Linked DNA regions of Homo sapiens. The protein of the gene in region 1 interacts with the protein of each later gene in a biochemical or structural test. Each region holds a gene or a part of one and is shown in the gene's direction. Other genes may lie near its edges.

Evidence for each region.
Region 2: the proteins of ITGB1 (region 1) and TIMP2 form a complex in vitro, tested with the Homo sapiens proteins (one study listed by BioGRID).
Region 3: the proteins of ITGB1 (region 1) and RABGAP1 form a complex in vitro, tested with the Homo sapiens proteins (one study listed by IntAct).
Region 4: the proteins of ITGB1 (region 1) and TSPAN7 form a complex in vitro, tested with the Homo sapiens proteins (one study listed by BioGRID).

The regions. Positions count from the first base shown.
Region 1 is NC_000010.11:32,906,231-32,909,730, reverse strand, and holds part of ITGB1 (integrin beta-1 isoform 1A precursor), read left to right. Parts: intron 1-1,196; coding exon 1,197-1,363; intron 1,364-2,587; coding exon of another isoform or gene 2,588-2,662; exon of another isoform or gene 2,663-2,668; intron 2,669-3,500.
Region 2 is NC_000017.11:78,855,933-78,859,387, reverse strand, and holds part of TIMP2 (metalloproteinase inhibitor 2 precursor), read left to right. Parts: intron 1-1,741; coding exon 1,742-1,866; intron 1,867-3,455. UniProt on the Homo sapiens protein: Complexes with metalloproteinases (such as collagenases) and irreversibly inactivates them by binding to their catalytic zinc cofactor. Known to act on MMP-1, MMP-2, MMP-3, MMP-7, MMP-8, MMP-9, MMP-10, MMP-13, MMP-14, MMP-15, MMP-16 and MMP-19.
Region 3 is NC_000009.12:123,073,520-123,077,019, forward strand, and holds part of RABGAP1 (rab GTPase-activating protein 1), read left to right. Parts: intron 1-32; coding exon 33-158; intron 159-765; coding exon 766-909; intron 910-2,725; coding exon 2,726-2,767; intron 2,768-3,114; coding exon 3,115-3,243; coding exon of another isoform or gene 3,244-3,252; intron 3,253-3,500. UniProt on the Homo sapiens protein: May act as a GTPase-activating protein of RAB6A. May play a role in microtubule nucleation by centrosome. May participate in a RAB6A-mediated pathway involved in the metaphase-anaphase transition.
Region 4 is NC_000023.11:38,686,480-38,689,418, forward strand, and holds the end of TSPAN7 (tetraspanin-7), read left to right. Parts: intron 1-1,119; coding exon 1,120-1,188; 3' UTR 1,189-1,195; intron 1,196-1,459; 3' UTR 1,460-2,439; downstream 2,440-2,939. UniProt on the Homo sapiens protein: May be involved in cell proliferation and cell motility.

The DNA.
Region 1 (3,500 bases):
TGTACATGTTTTTGTGTGAACATAAGCTTTCATTTCTCTTGGGTAAATACTAAAAATGGCATTTTGGAGCATATGGTAAGCATATGTTTAACTTTGTTAAGAAGCTGCCAGACTCTTAGACTCCCATACTGTTTTGAATTATCAGCTAGGTGTTTTGCAAATATTGTCTCCCAGCCTGTGTCTCCTTATCATTTCATTTTTTTAAGTGTCTTCTGAACACCACAGGTTTTAATTTTGATTAAGTACAGTTTACCAAGTTTTTCTTCTGTGGCTCTTGCTTTTACATTGTCTTTAAGAACTCTGCCTAACCCAAGATTATAAGGATTTTTCTCCTCTGTTTTTTGGTAGAAGTTTTATAGTTTCTGGGGTTTCACATTTAGATCTGTAACTCATTTTGAGTTAGTGTGTGACAAAAGGCTCAGTTTTTTTCATGTCAGTGTCCACTTGTTCTAGGGGCATTTGTTGAAAAAAGACTGTCTTTTCTCCACCTTTGTTGAACATCAGGTGACCTTACATGTGTAGGCCTGTTTCTGACTCTGTATTCTGTTCCATGTATCTGAGTGTTAGCTATACCACATGGTCTTGTAGCTTTCTTTATAGCTAGGCCTGAAAGCAGGGTCTTCCAACTTTATTCTTTTACAAAAGTGTTTTTGAGACACTTCCTTAGTTCCCTGCCTTCCATGTAAATTTTAGAAGTGGCTTACTGATTGCTACAGAAGTTCTGCCAGGAGTTTGAGTGGGATACCATTGAGTTTATAGATCAAATTGGGAAGAATTGACGTCTTAACGGTATTAGGTTTTGTAACTCCTGCACATGGAATATCTCTCCATTTATTCAGTCTGAAAGATTTCTTTTTATCAGTATTTAGTAATTCTTAACATGCAAATCTTGCATATATTTTGTTAGACTTATATGTAAGTTTTTCATGCTTTTTCATTCTGTAGTAAATATTACTGTTTAAAAACTTATATTTTCAATATGTAGAAATAAATTATATATATAGAAAAATACATGATTTTTGTTCATTGATCATGTATCCTGCAACCTTGTAAACTCACTTGTTAGTTCTAAGAGCTATTTTATAGATTCTTTGGGATAGTGTGCGTTCACTCTCTTGGGTGTTTATTCCTGTATGTTTTTTATAAGACACTGCACAGCTCTTTGTGGTGCTCATTATTACCTTCTTATTTTCCAGAGTGTCCCACTGGTCCAGACATCATTCCAATTGTAGCTGGTGTGGTTGCTGGAATTGTTCTTATTGGCCTTGCATTACTGCTGATATGGAAGCTTTTAATGATAATTCATGACAGAAGGGAGTTTGCTAAATTTGAAAAGGAGAAAATGAATGCCAAATGGGACACGGTAAGTTACAAAACATCCAAAAAGCAAAGTGGCTTATAAAGTAAATGTAATACTCCTAAGACTTATGTATTAGCTGTCAGGCTGATTATTAAAGTCCTTTCTAAGTATTTTATTCCCCCAAAAGTTTCTTACTCAAGGAATTTGCATTTAGTGAAAAACAGAAAGCATCCTAAATATATCCCATTGAAACAAAACATTGATTATAAGCATGTATATTCTGGTTACTGTGGCCAGTATTTTTATTTCTTTAATAGTTTTGATCCTAAATCTGCCTTTTCATCTAATGTGAAGTAGAATCCTAAATAATGTTATCTGTGTAGCAAGCTATTCAATGGAAAGCTGCTTCTTTCTTTAAAACAAACAAACAAAAAAAACCTTCAGTGAAAGCCAGATTCAAAAGGTTATATACCAAGCTTGTCCAACTCGCAGCTCGTCGGCCAGGACATGCAGCCCAGAATAGCTTTGAATGTGGCCCCAACACAAATTTGTAAACTTTCTTAGAAATTGTAATTATTATTATTATTTTTTTTTGGTAACTTTTTTTTAAAGCTCATCAGCTATCGTTAGTGTATTTTATGTGTGGCCCAAGACAATTCTTCTTCTTCCAGTGTGGCCCAGGGAAGCCAAAAGATTGGACACCCCTGCTATATACTATATGATTCCATTTAGAGGACATTCTGGAAAAGCAAAACTGTAGGGGCAAAAATCAGTGGTTGCTAGGGGCTGGAATGGGGGAAAGTGTTGACCACAGAGGGGCGTAAGGGATCTTCCTTGGGATGATCTTGATTGTGGGTGGATTTATGTATTTGAAAACTCACAGAACTATGTACTTTAAAAAGATGTATGTTCCTCTATGAAAATTATATCTCAGTAAACTTTGGCTTATAAAAATCTTAAAAGCCCTAAGTGACCGAAAGGTTATGTTAGCATTGAGTGCTTTGAAATATGGAGTCAGAGGGTGGGGTAACCAAATGTTGGCCTTTGTGTATTCATCTTTTGATACAAGAAAGCAATGCCAATCTTCAGTATTTTTAAATTGTAAATGAATTTTGTAGTTAGTTGCACTTTACTACAATTTGCTTGGGTTTTTAAAAATTATCAATTTTTTAAATTACAAATTTCAGAAGGGTAGAAATAAAAAAAAAGACATTTATAGTGTTCAAACACTATAAAGGGATTTTTTTTTTCTGATGAAATCATTAGAAACTATTTCTTTTACTTTAGCAAGAAAATCCGATTTACAAGAGTCCTATTAATAATTTCAAGAATCCAAACTACGGACGTAAAGCTGGTCTCTAAATTGCCGTTCGTATTTTGTTTCACTTTCTGCCTTTGCATGTGAACTTCTATCTTTTTTACTGCACTGTGTGTCCTTTATCACTATTGCTGTTCTTTTTTTAAGTCTGGCTTTAAATATCGCTATTGTGGCTTTTCTTTTTGTATGTTAACTTCGCGTTTAGAAAGACCGTAAAATAAGTAATGTGATATAGAAACAGCAGCCATGTTGTAGTGAAAAGAGAATGTGCTTTGCAATCAGTTAGACCTCAGGTCAAATCCCACCTCTTCCACTTAGTAAGTAGAACAGCATTGAGTCACTTCACTTCTCTCAACTGTCACAGGGAGTCAGTACTCTGTTTTGTATGGGGTGGTTGTATTTGGCAAATGCACTCCAGTATATGAAATCAGCCTGTCAGCTCTAATCCTCATAACAGTCCTGTGCCTAGAATGATATTATCCTATTATCTTTTGTTCTTTTTCTGTTTATTTATTTATTTATTTTGAGACAGTCTCTCTCTGTCGCCCAGCCTGGAGTGCAGTGGTGTGATATCAGCTCACTGCAACCTCTGACTTCCAGATTCCAGCAATTCTCCTGCCTCAGCCTCCCGAGTACCTGGGATTACAGGTGCCTGCCACCATGCTAGGCTAATTTTTTTGTTTTTAGTAGAGATGGGGTTTCACCACATTGGCTGGGCTGGCCTTGAACTCCTGACCTCCAGTGCTCTGCCCACCTCGGTCTCCCAAAGTGCTGGGATTACAGGCGTGAGCCACTGTGCCCCACCAGTATTATCCTTAAATAACAAATTTGTTATGAGTAAATTTTAGGGTTGGATAGTGAAAATTGATCACGAAATCCAAA
Region 2 (3,455 bases), on another chromosome or scaffold:
GCACCTGGCCTGAGGGATGAGTTTTTAAATGACTTCCATAGCTGTCATTAGGTTCTGTCAGCCACTGGAACACACTGCTTTGTTCTTTTCCTCCTGCTTGTAAAACGCCAAGGCTATTGCCAATGTAGTATCTTCAGCAAAGGAAGGAGGCAGCTGAGTCAGGAGCCGGAAGTACAGAAAGAAGCCACAGCTCATCATGCCTGATGAAGGGAATTCAGAGCAGATTCCTAATTTTCAAAAATTCCATGCTTTGGCTCTTCATAATGGAAAAATGCAGAATTATAAGTTTAAACTCAAATGGGAGAAGCACCTGTGAATTAATATTTTGTGAAAAACAAAACAGGAAACAATATAATCTACATACTGCATGACGTTTTATGTGTGAAGATGCACATAGAAGAGAATATTGGCCGGGCGCAGTGGCTCACACCTGTAATCCCAGCACTTTGGGAAGTCAAGGTGGGAGGATCACTTAAGCTCAGTTCAAGACCAGCCTGGGCAACATGGTGAAACATCGTCTCTATCCTTTTTTTAGAATAAAATTTAATTTAAAAGAATATTGGGGCCAGGCGTGGTGGCTCATGCCTATAATCCTAACACTTTGGGAGGCCAAAGTGGGGGTATTGCTTGAGCGCAGAAGTTTAAGACCAGCCTGAGTAACATAGCAAGACCCTGTTTCTACAAAAAAAAATATAAAAAATTAGCAGGGTGTAGTGGTTCACACCTATAGTCCCAGCTATTCAGGAGACTGAGACGGGAGGATCGCTTGAGCTTGGGAGGTCAAGGCTGCAGTGAGCTATGATCATACCATTGCACTCTGGCCTGAGCGACAGAGCAAGACTGTCTCAAAATCAATAGTGGAATATTGGAAGGAAATACATCAAAATATTAGCTGTGGGTAATGAAAGTAGGGAATTTTTTTCTTTTCTTTTTTTTTTTTAGACTGAGTCTCGCTCTGTCGCCCAGGCCCAGGCTGGAGTGCAGTGGCACCAACTCGGCTCACTGCAACCTCCGCCTCCCGGGTTCACGCCATTCTCCTACCTCAGCCTCCTGAGTAGCTGGGACTACAGGTGCCCGCCAGCACGCCTGGCTAATTTTTTGTATTTTTAGTAGAGACGGGGGTTTCACCGTGTTAGCCAGGATGGTCTCGATCTCCTGACCTTGTGATCCACCTGCCGCGGCCTCCCAAAGTGCTGGGATTACAGGCATGAGCCACCGCCCCTGGCCAGGAAGTTTTTTCTTTGTTTCCAATGTTTAAGTTTCTGTCAGTGAACATGCATTATGGCTTTCTTTTTTTTTCCACTTTTTATTTTTTTGAGACGGAGTCTTGCTGTGTCACCCAGGCTGGAGTTCAGTGGCGCGATCTCGGCTCACTGCAACTTCCGCCTCTGGGGTGCAAGAGCGATTCTCCTGCCTCAGCCTCCCAAGTAGCTGGGATTACAGGCGTGTGACACCACACCCGGCTAATTTTTTGTATTTTAGTAGAGAGGGGGTTTCATCACGTTGGCCAGGCTGGTCTTGAACTCCTGGCCTCAAGAGATCCACCCGCCTCAGCCTCCCAAAGTGCTGGGATTACAGGAGTGAGCCACCGTGCCTGGCCACCCACTGTGTTTTAACTCAGAATAGACAGTGCACAGGATTGTTGCAACGAAATCCCAGCGCCCCTGCGCCGGGTGGAGGAGCTGGGCAGGAGGAGGACTTTTCCCTCTCCCTGAGCTCGGTGATCCCCGTCTCTCCGCAGGAAAGGCCGAGGGGGACGGCAAGATGCACATCACCCTCTGTGACTTCATCGTGCCCTGGGACACCCTGAGCACCACCCAGAAGAAGAGCCTGAACCACAGGTACCAGATGGGCTGCGAGTGCAAGGTAAGCAGGTCCTGCCTCTGCTGGAGCATCGCCTCCTCCCAGTGTCTCCAGATGGACGGCAGGGATTTTGATCCCTGGCTTTCCAGGACCCGTTAATCCCCGGCTCCTGATCTAAGACCAGGCTCTGGGAAGGTAGAGTCATCCCAAGAGTAAGGCTGTCTGGCTGGGGACAGAGCCTTTGACCCCTGGTCCCTGGAGAGCCCTGAGGCACATCTCTGACAGGGGATGTCTGGAGGCCGGGCGCTGCGGCTCACGCCTGTAATCCCGGCACTTTGGGAGGCCGAGATAGGTGGGTCACTTGAGGTCGGGAGTTGGAAATCAGCCTCACCAACATGGCGAAACCCTGTCTCTACAAAAATACAAAAATTAGCCAGGTGAGGTGGTGCACGCCTGTGATCCCAGCAACTTGGGAGGATGAGGCTTAAGAATTGCTTGAATGTGGGAGGTGGAGGTTGCAGTGAGTTGAGATCACACCACTGCACCCCAGCCTGGGTTGACAGAGTGAGACTCTGTCCCAAAAAAAAAAGAGGGAGATGTCTGGAAGGCTAGGAGATTTGAGAGTAAGAGCATGAATTCAGCTCTGTTACCTGTAGCTTCCAGAAAAAGGAGCTGTATGGGGAGAGAGAATATGGTCCCATGGAGAATTTTCTACAAATGTGCAAGTGCAAACGCCTGTGTGGCTTATGAGAAGGCACTGCAGGCCTTACGCTGTTTCCAACATTCCCGACATTTTCACACCTGGGTTGGTGTCTATGTGGGGTCTGTGTGTTGAGAATACCTGAACACCTGCTCCTCTTAAAATGAGCCCGGAGGTTGTGCCAGGCACAGCTGGAGCAGTGCAGCGCCTAGATGTGGCTGTGGAAGGTGAGATTACCGCCTCCAGGGCTCCCAGGCTGGCTCCTACCCTGTGGGCTCCTAGCACCCTATCCCCACCCTCCCTGCAGGAAGCATGGCTGAGTGCTGGGCACCTCCCACCCTGGGTCACTCCCAGTGAGTCTGGGACCAGGAGACTCTGGTGAGGCTGTGGGGATTGGCCTTCCCTGGGGAGCTGCCTGGGGCTGCCCTCCCTCCTGACGGCCCCCAGCCCCTTCTCCGCATGTTCAAAACAGGAATTCTGAACTCATAGTCTCCAGCCACACGTATGTTAAGCGAAACTCCTCTGTGCCCAGCATGAAATCAAAAGCAAGTTTTTCCTTTTTCTTTCCACGGTGGTGAAGGCGGTCATCCTCTTGTAGCCTAGGGTTCCTTGGCCAAATTGCTAGTTGCCGATGACCTCGGGGCTCGGCTTGCGAGCAACACTGGGCTGGAATCTGTCTCCAGGAAACCCAGGCCCTTTTATTGTTGCTGTGTCCCCCAGAGGGCAGGGCCAAGCTGAGGCCATTCTGTCATGCTCAGGAAGGTAGAAGATGGCCCAAAGGGAAGCACACCTGCAGTAGGAGGGGGGGCAGCGGTGGGCAGGGCACAGCTTCCCTGCAGGTTAGACCCCCTCGCAGGCCAGCTGCCTGCCCCTGCAGGAACCGTGGGTCTCGGGAGAGGCTGCCATCCCTGCACATGACAGGTAGGCACATTGCCGGGTTCTGGACATGCCC
Region 3 (3,500 bases), on another chromosome or scaffold:
TCCCTACCCAACAACTTGCCTATCTGTTACAGATGCCTGAAGAACAGGCATTCAGTGTTCTGGTCAAGATCATGTTTGACTATGGGCTCAGGGAACTTTTCAAGCAAAACTTCGAAGATTTGCATTGCAAATTTTACCAGTTGGAGCGCCTCATGCAGGTAAAAAGAGAAACCAGCTTGTGTTTGACAAAAAGAGTACAGGACTAAGGAGCACCAAATTGAGGAAATGGTGCCAGGGAGCATTGGTAATTGCCTTAGCGATCCGTGGCTAAGGATGGGTTTCATTTTTATCCTTTATCACTATGTGATTATGATGCAAAGATTAACAAAGTGTTAAACTTTCACACCTCATGGATGTGAGCTGATAAACTCCCAAAAGATCAGATGACTTTGTTAGGGGTCTTTTCCACAGCTAACTCAGTCAAGAAGTACTCCCCAAGGCTCTGAAGCTGACTGGTTAGGAATCTCATAACAAAAGTGAAACAAACTTTCCCAAATGTTTTTTACTTTGGAGAGAAAAACAGGCTTTCCAAATACTTGTCACCATTTTGGGGATTCCTCTTTCTTTAGAACAAGTTTGTGGTCTGGAAAAAAGAGTTGAGTGCCAGCTTAATACCAGATGATAAGTGTTCTAAGCACTTTGGAGATTTTTAGAAAAACACAAGTATTTTACTTTTTTGGCCTATTCCTGGTAGATTTATGAGCCTCCTTAGTGGGAATTGGACAGATGCATATGTGCCCAGAACTAATTGGTTTGCTATTTCAGGAATACATTCCTGACCTGTACAACCACTTCCTGGATATAAGCCTTGAAGCACACATGTATGCCTCCCAGTGGTTTCTTACTCTTTTCACTGCAAAATTCCCTCTCTACATGGTCTTCCATATCATCGACCTGCTTTTATGTGAGGTATGTATCAGAGGCCACAGCACTTTGGCTTTTGTTTGCAGTGTACTTGAGGAGAACAGATTCTGTTTTGAGTGTCAGCTCTGTCAAAACAGAATTGGTCTCTTTAATTATTTTATTTTATTGCTAGGAAATCTAGGTTTAAGTGACTTCCTTGGACTAAAGCTAATGATCGTATTTGTTAAAGGTGTACTCTGAAAAGACGTACTGAATTAGACATTTGTATTAGTTCATATTAGTTTTGGCTGTATTGAATGAAGAAACCCAAAGTAACAGTGATTTTAAAAAATAGCTTTTTGCTCTCTTGTGAAAAAAAGTCAATGTTGGCAGTAGCGTGCCTTCCCCTCACTCTGGCTGTTAGCCGTATGGAGGAGTAGCACACCAGCCATTATATCATATTCAAGCCAGGAGGATTAGAGGATGGGAGAGGGTGCCTCCTCTGTTTTCAAAAGAGACTTCCTGGAAGTTCCATCCAGTATTTCCACTTTATGGTCAGAACTTAGTTACATGACCACACCTAGCTGCAAGGGAGACTTTTTAAAAAATAAGCTGAGCAGGAATTTGCTAAAAATTAGAGATTTATTACTAAAGAGAAAATAAGATATTAGAGTAAATAACAGTCTTTGCCATGACGTAATTTTGGATTTTGTGTGGTGTGTTTAAGAAAAACATAATTATAAAAATAATATATGTTTATAGAAAATATAAGTAAAAATAATTTAAAATACTACAAATCCCACTGTCTATAGGTTACCTCCTTTAACAGTTTGGTTAAAAGCAGTATCCTTTCAGCCTTTTTTATGTGTTCATATATGTGTATGTATAATTACTATACAGAATAGTATGGTTTCCATATGGATGGAACACTATATATATTATGGTTCTCCTATGTGTATATTTAAAAATATGATTGTTATTTATACTCTTTGGTATCCTCTTTTTAAATTTCATATACTTGAACATACACATCTGTACTATCCTTTTTAATTATGCTATATTCAAAACATACAAAAATTCATAAAGAATTTGTATCTACCACTCAGCTTGAAATATTCTAAGAAACAGAAGAAATAAATATTACCAAATATGCCGTTTTTCTTAGTTGCTGCCAAGTATCCCATTATTTGGATGTGCTATACTTTATGTAACCAATTTCTAATCACAAACCTTTAAATTGTTTCTAGCTTTTTAGTAGTATAAACAACCATCTGTTAAGTAGCTACTAAAGGCCAGGTGGCATGCTAAGTAATTTACATAAACTTTTCAGCTAATTATCTCAGAAAACCCATAGGAGAGTATTAGTTATGGAAACTGAGGCCCAGCAGCTTAAGCAGTTTAACTTGATCAACAGATGTTAGTGCTTCCTCTCCTTTGTTCTTAGCCCCAGGATTTGCAGAATGGAGGGAGCCTTGAGCAGATTCAGTTCTGGAATATAGGGCTTATCGACAGAGTGGTTGCTGTGCATGGATTGGGACAGCACAAGATAAAGGAAAAGTTCCCCAGGAGTTATTTCCTGAGAGATCACAACTTTATGACTGATCTTTTGGTTTGGAAGCATGGAATGCTTTGGAAAAGCATTTCTTATTATTGAATATGAGAACAGGGCAAGAAAAGCTCTTCTCTCAGAAAAAGGGGAAGCTAGGTCTTTAAGCAGCTTTTCAATGGCCCTTTAGTTTTTATTTTTCAAGGTAGTTCTGAGATAATGCATTTCCTTCCTTAAGTTTTCACAATTTCTTTAAAAATGTGGGGTATAAGGACAAATAGCATAATAGTCGAGATATAAAAACTGACAGTGTTCTTTTTGTCTGTTCTCTTTCAGGGAATAAGTGTTATTTTTAATGTCGCCCTTGGATTATTAAAGGTACTCATTTATTTATTAGCTGAGTTATCTGTCATTCCCTGCTCTGCACTTGCAATACATTGGTTGTAGTCTCATTCTGAGCAGTCACTGTGCACTAGCATTACCCATGACAGTGGATGTATGCAGGTGGCTCTGACAAAAGCGAAGAAATATCTTCTGGGGATTATAAAAGTGCTGGAAATCTAGCATTACCCCTAACAGTGGATGTATGCAGGTGGCTCTGACAAAAGCTAAGAAGTATCTTCTGGGGATTGTAAAAGTGCTGAAAAGTGCTGAGAATATAAAAAACTTCTTGTGCATCCTTATAGCAACACATTTTTTCTATATGTGTTTGTATTTTCTTCAAGACTTCGAAAGATGACCTGCTGTTGACAGACTTTGAAGGTGCCTTGAAGTTCTTTAGGGTTCAGCTTCCTAAGAGATACCGCTCAGAAGAAAATGCAAAAAAACTAATGGAATTAGCCTGCAACATGAAGGTAAAATAATTTTGCATTAGTTAAGATTCTGTTTTTCACTTAGTGTCTCACTATTCCTGATCATTTATAATACATAATTATTTATGTATTATATTTATAACATTTATAATACATATTAGTGTTAACATTTATAATATATAAATAATATTAATGATGTTTTCTTCTGTATTATATAACTCTTAACCTTTTTTTCCCCAAAATACTTTCCTATATATTATAATCCTACGAATGAAATCTCGTTGTCCCCCCAACCGCCA
Region 4 (2,939 bases), on another chromosome or scaffold:
CATATCTGATTCAGCAGGTCTGGGGCGAGATCTGAGAATGTGCATTTCTAAAAAGATCCCAGGCGATCGTGATGCTCTTGGTCCTGGGGTCACACTTCTAGTGAAACAGTTTATTCCCACCTCTGATCCAGTAAAACATGCCCAGTTATCTAAGGAGGAGGGACTACATTGGCCAAGAGAAAGCAGCCTGTAGACTCAAGTGCACAATTGGGCTCCTCTCTAAAGAATGCTGATCCTCCAGATTCATGAATGGAAATTTTCTTTTCTAATGAACAGAACAAGATGTGCTTAAGGGTGTCTTGAGAGTATCACAGTCATCTTTATTAGATTCACTTGTGCCACAGTTTAGATCAAGGCACAAAGACAAGTGGAGGACTAGAATCTTCTGAGGAGGTGGAGGTACTACATCACTGGTGGTCCTGAGGCCCCTAAAAAAACTGGGAGGTGGGCCCTGGGTGTAGATGAGCCCACTTAGGCCTAAGATATCTACATGGCCGAGAGACAGAATATAAAGCCCCACTTTCCCCTAGCCCCTCCTACCTTTTCATAAGCCTTGGCTTTCTTACCTCACTGGTGAATGTGCCTGATCAAGAATAGTGTCTCTATTCTTGCCTCAAGGAAAGAACTATTATTTTGTCAGCTGGGTATGGCTGAGACATCATAGTATGCTGAGAAATCTTCCAAATGCATGTGCTATAGATGTGAATTAAATTTTAGCCTTCTAGTTAATATATCACTAAATTCTGTGTTCCTTAATTTTTTTATTACTCTCATAACATGAACAAATTTTAATACTCCTTAAGTGTCAAAAGTTGTTCTTAAATGGCCAGAGTGAGCTACAGCTGCAACATGATGGCCAGTTTGAGAACTTCCAGTTGGCTCTGCAGTTAGACTCCCAACAGCTGAGATCCCATGGTTGAAATCTGGTTTTATCTTTTGCTCTAGTGCCCTTTCCCCATTTACATACAGAAACACTTGGTTGTTAAAAAATTATGTCTAGTGATACGCATATGTCAAAAATCACATACCCCATAAATATATAAAATTATTAATTAAATATTAAAAGGGTGTGGTTCGGTGACTTGAGATTCTCATTTTCGTTTTTCTCCCTGGCAACAGTTAATTGGCATGCTGCTGGCCTGCTGTCTGTCCCGGTTCATCACGGCCAATCAGTATGAGATGGTGTAAGGAGAAGGTAGGTGACAGTGGGGAGTGTTTAATTTTGAGGGGTCCCCTTTGGGACACTTACTACCCTTCAAATGTGCAGGAGTACTCCCTGGCCATTGAGCTACCTGATCTTGGTGGCACTTGTCCATGTTCAGAAATCTCATTTCTGTGGTTCTGGGAAGGAAGTATAATTGGTTCTTTTGTGGAAAATGTGGAAATGCTTTTTTCAGCTTGTTATCTTTCAAGTCCTTATTACTGGTGAATCACTCACATGTTCTCATTTCTCTCTTAGTCTTTCAAGAATGACGGAATAAGAGACCTGTTTTAAAAAGGAACTGCAGCAATCTTTGAAAGACTTCCAAAGAATGTTAGAGCACAGTACATAATACACTTGCCCTGCTCCCTCTCCCCCTTACCCCACAACGTGCAACTGACACTCCCACCCAGTCTCTGCTCCACCTTTCAGCCCACGTCACGTGTAGTGTCCATTTTGTGAAGCCCTGTTGTGCCACAGAGTGTAGCCAGGTCCCCCTGCAGCTAGTCCTAGTGAACCTCACCCCGAGGCCCTGCATGGGCCAGCCCCTCCATCTGTACTTGGTCCAACTGCAACTCATCATCGGTGACTGGTTATCACACCATCGCTGGCCCCTTTGGGCCCTGCATGTAGTGTGGGAGGCTCCTGTTAGCTCCTCACTGTGGTAAATGCCACACACCTTTAAGTAGATAAGCAGACGATAGTTATCTGTTCTTTTGACTTAATCTCATTTGGTTTGATTTTCCCTCTACTAAGGCTTTCCTACCTTCTTCAGGCTGCCTAAGACATGTAACGAAACACTTCAATAATTGTCCATGAGGAGAAAAAAAGCATGTGTCATGCATGAAGGAAACTGAACTTGAGGTGGCCTCCTTGCTTGTTACATACCTGGGTATGTGTAGGCAGTTTAGTGCATCTTTGCCTCTCGGTTGAAACCTGTATAACCCTGTTACAAAGCTGTGTTGTTGCTTCTTGTGAAGGCCATGATATTTTGTTTTTCCCCAATTAATTGCTATTGTGTTATTTTACTACTTCTCTCTGTATTTTTTCTTGCATTGACATTATAGACATTGAGGACCTCATCCAAACAATTTAAAAATGAGTGTGAAGGGGGAACAAGTCAAAATATTTTTAAAAGATCTTCAAAAGTAATGCCTCTGTCTAGCATGCCAACAAGAATGCATTGATATTGTGAACATTTGTGATATATGTATTAATAAATAGAGCAATTACAAGCAGCTGTGTTCTGGTTCTGTTCTTTGGTTCTTATGAAAGTTTTAAAACACATTTCTTTTCCATCTTGCTCTTCAGGACATCGCAGGCAGGTGGACCATCTCACACACTGACACACCTCTCCATGTGTGCTCCCACCCCACTAAAATAGCATCAGCAGCAGAGAAGCTAAAGGGTTAGGTTTTTTTAATTATTGTTATGGACACTTCAGAAACTTTAACCATTTATCATGAACAGAATACATTGTTGTCTGTGGAAATAGAGCCTTCATATCATTTCAGGCCTCTGAAATCCTTGGGCCTGAAATCCGTGAAATAAATACAAAGATTTCAGCTGAGTTTTTAAAGTCTGGATTTCATTTTGTTAAAAAGGAAATGAGCCTCTATTCTTTCCTTCATCGCTTCTAATGAGCATGAATTCTCCTCTTTCCTCTTTCTTTTCTGTGTTGGATTGAAAAAACACGATCTAGAGAAGAGATTACATCCTACGATTCAGCCATCCCAAT